Homo sapiens: one gene and its partners. The protein of the gene in region 2 interacts with the protein of the main gene of each other region in a pairwise test. Each region holds a gene or a part of one and is shown on either strand. Other genes may lie near its edges. The genes, in order: PPP1R8, PPIL1 and THOC5.

What was found.
Region 1: the proteins of PPIL1 (region 2) and PPP1R8 interact in a two-hybrid assay, tested with the Homo sapiens proteins (one large-scale study listed by BioGRID and IntAct).
Region 3: the proteins of PPIL1 (region 2) and THOC5 interact in a two-hybrid assay, tested with the Homo sapiens proteins (one large-scale study listed by BioGRID and IntAct).

What each region holds. Positions count from the first base shown.
Region 1 is NC_000001.11:27,849,882-27,852,312, forward strand, and holds the end of PPP1R8 (nuclear inhibitor of protein phosphatase 1), read left to right. Parts: intron 1-211; coding exon 212-565; 3' UTR 566-1,795; downstream 1,796-2,431. UniProt on the Homo sapiens protein: Inhibitor subunit of the major nuclear protein phosphatase-1 (PP-1). It has RNA-binding activity but does not cleave RNA and may target PP-1 to RNA-associated substrates. May also be involved in pre-mRNA splicing.
Region 2 is NC_000006.12:36,864,624-36,868,356, reverse strand, and holds part of PPIL1 (peptidyl-prolyl cis-trans isomerase-like 1), read left to right. Parts: intron 1-3,733. UniProt on the Homo sapiens protein: Involved in pre-mRNA splicing as component of the spliceosome. PPIases accelerate the folding of proteins. Catalyzes the cis-trans isomerization of proline imidic peptide bonds in oligopeptides. Catalyzes prolyl peptide bond isomerization in CDC40/PRP17.
Region 3 is NC_000022.11:29,515,758-29,519,257, forward strand, and holds part of THOC5 (THO complex subunit 5), read right to left. Parts: intron 3,364-3,500; coding exon 3,249-3,363; intron 1,610-3,248; coding exon 1,506-1,609; intron 1,360-1,505; coding exon 1,272-1,359; intron 1-1,271. UniProt on the Homo sapiens protein: Component of the THO subcomplex of the TREX complex which is thought to couple mRNA transcription, processing and nuclear export, and which specifically associates with spliced mRNA and not with unspliced pre-mRNA.

The DNA of each region.
Region 1 (2,431 bases), on a different chromosome or scaffold from region 2:
GAACCATCGTAGATGACTGGAAAGGTCTCTTCAAACCGTAAGATTTCAACATCATGAAATAGGTTGTCTGGAAAGGAGAACAGGCTAGAAGTTAGGAATCTTTCCCAAAAGCCATTTTTTTAAGGCTGGAATAGAAAAAGCTAACCACTCTTGGGCCTCACCTCTTGTCTTCTCTCTCCAATCTCTCCCCTCTCCTCATCGTGAACTGTAGAAGAAGCGTGTGGAGGGCCCTGGCTCCCTGGGCCTGGAGGAATCAGGGAGCAGGCGCATGCAGAACTTTGCCTTCAGCGGAGGACTCTACGGGGGCCTGCCCCCCACACACAGTGAAGCAGGCTCCCAGCCACATGGCATCCATGGGACAGCACTCATCGGTGGCTTGCCCATGCCATACCCAAACCTTGCCCCTGATGTGGACTTGACTCCTGTTGTGCCGTCAGCAGTGAACATGAACCCTGCACCAAACCCTGCAGTCTATAACCCTGAAGCTGTAAATGAACCCAAGAAGAAGAAATATGCAAAAGAGGCTTGGCCAGGCAAGAAGCCCACACCTTCCTTGCTGATTTGATATTTTTGGTCATGGAGAAGGGTGGGATTGGGTGGGAATGGGGTGGAAGGGTGATGGGGAGCTAATGAACTAGGGAGAAAAACTTTCCATGTGTGCGGTATCGTCTTTCAGAATGTCTCCTGGCATCCTAACCATGTAATATGACAATTGGGGGTGGGGTTGAAATAGCCCATAAAGACCTGTCTTCACAACACTTGCATTGTAGAGAAAGGCTTCTTATATCCTTTTCAATAGACTGCCCTGGCTCTTTCCTAGGCCTTCCACTACCTCCTTTCTTTCTCCCACTTTCTAGGATCATTTTTATGTAAAGTCACATATCCCAGGCCCTCAGGTTGAATCCAGAGCTGTAGAGGTTACAGTAGCATCACCAGCCTTGGGGGTCCAGAGCCTAATTTATATTCACTATCCTTCCAAGTCCCGGGTAGCAGAAGGGTTGCCATAGATCTCAGTTTGATCAAAAAGAAGGCTTAGAATTCTGCAGTTAAGCTGAGGTTTAAACTAAAAAATGTTTCCTTGGGTCAGTGGTTTTGAGGTCCAGTAGCTAGGCTTTTCTCTTTTGTCCTTCCTGTTGGAATGAAAACATTTCGATTTTCCTTCATCTGTGACTGGTGCCATAGACACAGGTTTATAGTTTTAACTTACAGTATTGTTTGAAATTTACCTGTTTTTCTTGTCAAACCTGAGCACTCCTCCTGCTGAAGTTTCTTATTTAATTCCAGAGTACTGTCCTCTACTCTAAGGCATTACTTTTAAGTGTATTATGAAGGCAGTTTTCAAAGGATATGACCAGTTGGGGTAATTCAAATTAAAAAGGAAAAGATTTGTTTGGAAGTAACTGGTGTCTCTAAGAGGAATTTTTAGATGTCAGTTTGGAGGCTCTTTCCCCCCTCAATTGAGAGCTCTTGTTATTCAGAGCTCCAAGACTAGACCTGGCTAACAAACATAGGAGACAAAGTTAGGAAACATTGATACAAGCTTTGTACAGAGATTTGTACATTTGTGTAATAGGCCTTTTCATGCTTTATGTGTAGCTTTTTACCTGTAACCTTTATTACATTGTAAATTAAACGTAACTTTTGTCATTTGGGTGCAGGCTGTGAATTTGTCTCTCAGTCACTGATTGCCACTGCCATCTGGAAATGTTTGCTAAAGGCACAGTCACTGGGCTTGGGAGGCAATGCTCCATCCCCATTATATTACAAATAAAGATGCCCTAAATGAGTGTGGAAATTCTAATGAGAGAATGTAGTCCCCAGACTGAAGCCTCACAAAGCAGCGTTGGTTCGGAAGTGCTTGGTGCCCTTCATCAGGAGACCTCATGACGGGAGACGGGGCTTTAGGGCGTTTGCATAAGCCCTATCACCCACCCTGCAGTTAGAGCTCTGTGCATTTGAGCCATAGCTTGGTGACACAGGAGCAAACGGAAGCTAAAGGTAAGTAAGTTTAGGAGGGATTTCAGCAAGAATTTGAATTGAAGGAATATGCCTGCATACGGAATCTCATTTGCAGTAAGTATACTGTGTTTGTGAGACTTACATGTGGCTTTGAGATGAAGATGCCAGCTAGGTTCCAGATCCTTGGGTCAAGTGCAGACTCGTAGGAGGAGCAACCTTCTGAAGAACAGAAATTCATAACATCAGCTGTGCAAAGAGTTGACTTCCCCACAGGGTCTGTAAAAATGAGTGTCTCCCTCTCCCCCTCCCCCTCCCCCTCCCCCTCTCCCTCTCCCCACGGTCTCCCTCTCATGCGGAGCGGAAGCTGGACTGTACTGCTGCCATCTCGGCTCACTGCAGCCTCCCTGCCTGATTCTCCTGCCTCAGTCTGCCGAATGCCTGCGATTGCAGGCACGCGCCGCCACGCCTGACT
Region 2 (3,733 bases):
TAGGATTTTTTTTTCTTTTTTCCCTGCATTCACTAAAATAATCTCAGACCTTTACTCTGTGCCTTACTCAATTTTCAGTCATTTTTATTCTGTTCTTTACTGCTCTAATTTATCTACTAGCTCATTACTGATGCCATTTGAATCTAAATTTGTTTCCTTCACTCTGCAATCTTTTCATCTTATTCTGTGGTGTATTATCTTGTCTTTGAGCTTTTGTTATATTATATTTTTACTTCTCTTGAATCATCCATAGCTTGAGATAGCCATGGAGAAGCCACTTTCTCCCAGGCTGAGTTCCTGGGTTTTCTTTTCCTTTCTCCCCTCCTCCTTTCTGTCCTTCTGTTGGTTGTGGTATGTTTGCCTAGTTTCCATGCCATTTGTTTTCATCTTATCCATGCTTGATGTCAACACCTACATTATCCCCACCTTTTACTTGCTCAGATACAGTGTAAGTGGAGTCTCCTTGTCATTCTCCCCACTTATGTGGAACTGGTTGTCTTCCCCACTTCAAATGTTAGGTTGCTTTCTCTCTATTCTATTCTAGCCTGAAGAGGTGTGGGAGAGAACTGGAGCTCAGCTCATGCTGAGCGAGCCCCTTGTGGGAGGGCTAGCCTCTGTTCTATCTTCCCAGACTCCCTTAAAGTCTTGTCCCAGAGCCCCCTCCACCAGCCAGTGGTGTCCCTCTGTCACCACTCCAGGCTCTGGGTAGTCCCCAAGTATGGCCCAGCACCCTGGAAGGTGGCCAGCCCTGCGTGCCTGCCCTGCCACTCCCGAGCCCCTGTGATATGTGTGGGCTTCTGCCCTCAAGGGCTTTGTTTTCAGAGCTGCTCACCCACTCCCCTGTTGGCTGTTCAGAATCGGAGGGTATTTGTGAGAATCTCAGCATGACATTTCTTTCCTGGTTACTGGTTTCAGGGAATACAGATGGAAGAATTTTCTATTTTTTCCTCTTGGCTGACTCTTTTTACAATTTTAGCATGTTTGGTTCCCTTTTCTTATTTGGTTGATGCTGGTGAACTTTTGACTTTTTAATTTTTAATTTTTGTATGTTCACTTTATTGGGTGTTGGGAGCATGTGGTAAACGTGCCTGATAGCAATAACTGAAACATACCCTTAGAATGACCCTGTATGGCAGACGCATCTGAATGTGTGTTCTGAGCTAGGGAATCCAGGAGTAGCCAACCTGGAGGTTCCTTCCTTGTCTATAAAGGGACATCTGAGCCCCTGGCTCGTCCTGTGAAACATGGGCCGCACACGGGTTGAGGCCCCGAGTTTTGAGTTGAATGAAGATTGCCAGGTGGAGATTGTTAGGGAGAAGGTGCTAAGTGGAAATGCTATATAAACTGCATGCTTTTTGCAAGCCATTGTGGTTCTCCGCCACCATTGGACTCTCTGCCCTGTATGTAAGTCCCCAATAAAACCCCATGTCTCATTTGCTGGCATTAGGTCTCTTCGGTCTATTGAACCTGATGCCATCCCCATTGGAGTCAATAGAGGTTCGGCACAACAGGGAGGCAGAGTCTAGTCCTGCTTCATTCTACTTTCTTTGTCTGAAAGGGTTCCGTCGGTACTTCGATGTACTTCTTTCCTGTCTTCTTCCTCTCTCCCCCTCATGTTGTTATGAAATAAATTTTAATTCTTAATACCAGTGAACTGAGAGTCCATGATTAGGGTACAAGTATTGGAAGTGACTCAGGTGTGAGTTGCTCATGCCACAGCTTTTCTGTATTTCTGTAGTTGGTTCATGATCCTTCATAATGTCACATTTCCATGGTGTAATTTTAATGAAATTGAATCACTCAAAAGATCTTCAAATAACTGCACCCAGCCTCAAGTATAATGAATGACTGAGCAGCCCACTGGCAGGTCTATGGTGGAAGGCAAGCAGGAGTTAGGCTCTCCTGGGTCACTAGTTCATATTTTCTAGCTGATTAGGTGACACGTTTTTTGTTAAACATCTCAGATGGGCAGCAAATGACATCCTGGGCTCTTCAGCAAGTTGATGTACCACTTCCATTCCCAGCTGTCCCTCAGTCTGACTACTGTGGAACCATTCTTTCCACATGCTTTCTTGTAATACATCTTTGCCAGATGCCTTGTCAATTCAAATACCCTTTGACTTCCTGCTTCATTTCATTTTAAACCATTTTTCTACCTTCAACTTTCCCATATTATAATAACTATAGAGGCTCTTTCCTTAGCCCTCTGAGTGTCTTTTATTTGTTTCTACTAACCTTTCTGTCCTCTCTGTAAGACATAACATCCTGTCAAGTTCTTCCTTTAGCTCTTCCTGCTCTGCACTTGGCCTCACAGTGCTCACCAGCTGCTGTGATTAATTATATGCTGATTATCCTGTGCGTCACTCTCACTTTGATTTCATCTCTCCTCTTGGTAGCCCCAGGAACACCTGAAATGTAACGTGTTGAACAGCAAGCTCTGTTAATTTTATTCATTTGATGAGTATTTGCCAAGAGTCTGCTGGGTATCCTGTGCTATTCTAAGGCCTGGGAGAAGCACTTAAGCATTAAAAGCCAAGGCATTTTCTTTTTCCTTGCAGTTCCCTGCCCTGCCAGGAAACAAACTATTCATTATAAGAAACAACTAGAATGGGATAATATAAATATGCAAATGTATGATAGTACGGTGTGGATTATGTATATAATATAGGTTGGAGTAATTCACAATAAGGGAAAAAGCACAATGGAATGAGATTAGGATGGGAAGGAGGCATATGCGAGATGGGTCTTGGGAAGTAGAGGGAAGGGCATTTTGAATTTAGGAAGAAGGGTGGGTACAGGGCAGGAGTGACAGAGGCATGCAGGGGTAGGGAGGGAGCCCGCCACCCCCGGTGTCACATCTTCCACTCTAGACTGGCTCTTGTGACATCACCCAGCCACCTCTCCACACCCAGAACAAATGCATCAAATGTGATTCAAAGGCCCCTGTAAAATTTACAGATCTCGGAACTGCCTGTTTAGGGGACAGTAAGGAGCAGTTTGGGGCCAGTTAATGGAGACTCCTAGACAGAGGAGTTCAGATTTGATTGAGCATGACTCAGGGACCATTTGGGACTCTTGAGTCTGGGATAAGACAAATCTGAGGAAATTTCATCCAGCTGTGGACTATGGCAAGACAGTTTGGTTCAGGGTAGAGCAGGACTGTGGAGCTTGGGCTTGCCTTGTGCTTCACATGAATACTTACTAAATGTAGAGGAGTTGCCTTACCCTGCTGAGCCAGCTCACCTGTCGGGAGTGTGGTTACGTGCACCTCCTAGGCTGGTTGTGAGTAGTAAATGAGCTGATGTTGGTACAGTGGTTAGCATGGGCTTGACACAAAGTGGGAGCTCAAACAAATGTGACTGGTTTTTTTTTTTTATTGTTAATTCATTTAACAAATACCTATTAGACTCCTTCTGTAGGCCAGGCACTCTTCTAAAAGCTGGAGATACAACAGTGAATAAGAAAGCCCTCGCGGTGCTCTCATTCTGGTGAGAGACGGAGAATGAAAAAGTACATAATATACTCTCAGGGATGGCAGATGATATGGAAAAAAGAATGTACTGCTGGGATGGAACAGGATTTCTCAACCTAGGCACTATTGACATTTAGAGCTGGATGATTCTTTGTTGGAGGGGGTGCTGTCCTGTGCATTGAAGGATGGTTAGCTTCGTGATGGCTTCTAACTGCTTGATACTGATAGAACCACTCAGTGTGACAACCCAAATTGTCTCCA
Region 3 (3,500 bases), on a different chromosome or scaffold from region 2:
GCAGTTGAGGCTGCAGTGAGCCATGACTGAGCCACTGTACTCCAGTCTAGGCAACAGAGCAAGACCCTGTCTCAAAAAATAAGTTAAATTAAATTTTGAAAGGGGAGAGGCCAGGCATGATGGCTGATGCCTACAATCCCAGCACTTTGGAAGAAAGGCCAGGAGTTTGAGACCAGGCTTGGCAACATAGTAAGAACATGCCTCTACAAAAAAACAAAAACAAAAACAAAAAATCTTAGCTGAGCATGGTAGCATACCTGTAGTCGCAGCTACTCAGGGAGCTAAGGTGGAAGAAGGATTGCTTGAGTCCAGGAGTTCAAGATTGCAGTGAGCTATGATCGTGCCACTGCACTCCAGCCTGGGCGACAAAGCAAGACCTTATCTCTACTGAAAAAAAAAAAAAAAAGGGTGTAGCGGGGAAAGGATGGAAAGCAAATGCATAAAATCCAAATAGTGGTCACTTATTAGGAGAAAGGGAATAAAGTGGGATAGGGAGGCCTCAACTGTATCTGAAATATTCAGTTTCTTCAGAATTTTTTTTTTAAAAGACATGAAGAATAGAAAGAGAAGAAAGTGGGGTAGTGAGGACAGAAACTCTGATACCAAAGAGTTCAGCCTTTCCTTACAGTTCTGGAACTGTCTTAGAACTACAGACAACTTCCTCAGCTCAGCACCAAGTCTTGAGGGTGTCAGATCCCACGGGCAGTGCCAGGCTTGCTGCGGCTTGGGTGGGACAACAGCACAACGGCCCAAACACAACATCCCAGGACTTCAGCAGGGAGCCCTGGCAGAGTCAGATGCCAGAAGAGGTATGAAGAATCAGAGCTTTCAATGCCTCTAAAGTGAGTGCAGGGACTGCAGAAGAGGGAGCGAGGCCCTGTGGCCCTGCCCTTTACAACCTGAGGGTGACACCTCAGCCCTGTTATGAAGAGGGAGAAGGAGGAGATGTCCGGTACTAGAAAGCGGTGAAGGAAGGAGCAAAGAGCTCAGGCTCAGCGCTCAGACTGGGCTTGCAACTAAGCCTGAATTTCCTCCCATGTAAAATAGAAATGAAAGCACCACCCCTAGGACTGCAGTGAGGGTTCAGTGATACACAGCGTGTGTGTGACTGTGTTGCAGAATGAGTCCTTGCTGAACAGGCTCTCACGATCATTATTATCTGTTAAGTCCTTGCAGGACTCCAGGATCTTCTGCTTTGGGCAGCCCCGGAGAGTGTTTGATTCTTGGCAGCGCCCTTTGTCTAGAACCCCTGTAATCAGCAGAGCAATTACCTGTGCCCCTTTCGATGAGCGCCATGTAGTAGAGATTGGTGTCCCCAGCCAGTCCCGCATCCACAATGTCTTTGGTGAAGTGCAGCTCCTAGAAGAGGTACCACAGACAAGAGGTGAACTGCTGGCTCCTCTGGTTAAACCCCCTGCTCTTCCAGTGAGGTGGCAGGAGCTGAAAGGTGACATGGTCCTGCAATCCTCAGGACAGTAAGGGTAACTTGTCACTCCTTCACCTACCATGTAATCCTCATGGGCAACTGTCACCCATTTCACCAGGCGAGAGACAACCTTGGCAGGGAAGAGGTACTGGCAATCACTGGTAACTGGCACAATGCCATGTTCTAAAAGAGAACAAGACAGATGACGTCACAGGTAGAAATCAGGTGCCACAGATGGGTAACTAGCATCCTCCTGGGGCTCTCTGAAGGGCTCAGATGGCCCGGCCAGCTATCCTGGTATACCTGGTACTCAGGAAGTACCCAGGTCAACACGTGCCAGGAATGCAAGCATGTCAACCTGACCTTCACCCAGTGCTATGTGCTTGTGGCCAGATCCAGTGCCAGCACTTATGGTGCTTTCTCTTTAATGCAAATGATAGCCTGCCAAAGAAAAACCCTTACAGTCAGAACTAGGGAGGGTGCCCCTGCAGCAGTGACTGTTAATTAGATCAAATAGCATAGAGGCCTGTGTTTTCATAGCTGACCTTGATGGAGGAAACAACTGAAGTGTTGTGTGTCAGGGAGAAGAGCCAGATAACTGCTCCAGGGTAAATTCCTGCTGGCATTTAAATAAGCAAATATGCCAACACAGTAAGTACTGTCCAGAATGACAAGTTCCCTACCTTGGGACAAAACAAACTCAGCAGTGCTGATGGGGAGCACGGCCCGATGGACAAACATCAGTGCTCTGGAGAGATCGGCAGCCATGTGGAGTCTAAGAACTGGTGGGGAGTGGTCTCCAGATGTGTCCTGGAAACCCAATGCCTTTCCTGACAGAGACTCTTTTTTATTTTTTACTTTTTATTTTGAGATGGAGTCTCGCTTTGTTGCCCAGGCTGGAATACAGTGATGCGATCTCAGCTCACTGCAACTTCCGCCTCTCAGGTTCAAGCAATTCTCCTGCTTCAGCCTCCTGAGTAGCTGGGAATACAAGTGCACACCACCATGCCCAGCTAATTTTTGTATTTTTAGTAGAGACGGAGTTTCACCATGTTGGCAGGCTGGTCTTGAACTCCTGACCTCAAGTGATCTGTCTGCCTTGGCCTCCCAAAGTGCTGTGATTACAGGCAAGAGCCACTGCGCCTGTCCCAGAGACTCTTTTAGGTCAGAAAAATCTTGACCCCATCCCCCTGCCACATGGTAAGCATTTGACAACCACTTACTGAGTGAATAAACTAAAAGAAGCCCCCAAATGCCACCACCTAAGTCAGTGGCTCATCATTATCACTTGGGAGCTTAGAAGAAAACATAGGCTCAGCCTCACCCTGGGGAACACGAGGTCAGTAGGCCTTGGGGAAGGGATATGCGAGTTGCTCCCTGGATAGCTATATTCAAAAAGCTGACTGTGAGCCACAGAGCCAGGGGCAGGGGTTCACTGTGCTCAGTTCTTCCCCCAGCACTATGCTCAGTGCCTGGCATGAATCAGGATCTCACTAAATATGTGTCGAATGCACATCAAAATCTGCAATGCATGACCTAGGATGAACTGCCCCGACCAGTCCACAAACTTGTGCCACCCAATGGCTCTGGGCCTCCTCTGTGAGGCAGGACAGCACTGATGGCTCTAAGGGGGAGCTCGGTCCTCTGCCTGGACAGGCCTGGAGCTCTCCCCAGTGGCTCTGCCAAGATGCCCACTCCGTAAAGCCAGGAATCCAGGTCTTGTATTTGTCATCAGGATTCAAGTTTTGAGTGAAAGGCTAAGTTGTTGTTGTCCGTGTGTTGTCTGAGTGACTCTTAAACCACTGCCCCATCATCAGCTTACCTAGGGATGCAAACTGTTTGTGGAGGGCCAGGCGGGACTGCACCCTGGTCTTCAGAAGTTTCATGGTGGTCTCCATGTGGCTGGCGCTCAGCGAGTGGTCAGCAATCACTGTTTGCTGTGAGTGACAATGAGACACATACACGTGTGCTCCCCCATCCCTTCCTCCGGGCACCATCTCTCTCCTGGGACCTGCCTGTCTGCGGCACCCTGGATTATCCATGCCCCAAGATGGGTACCCTTTAGACATGGCAA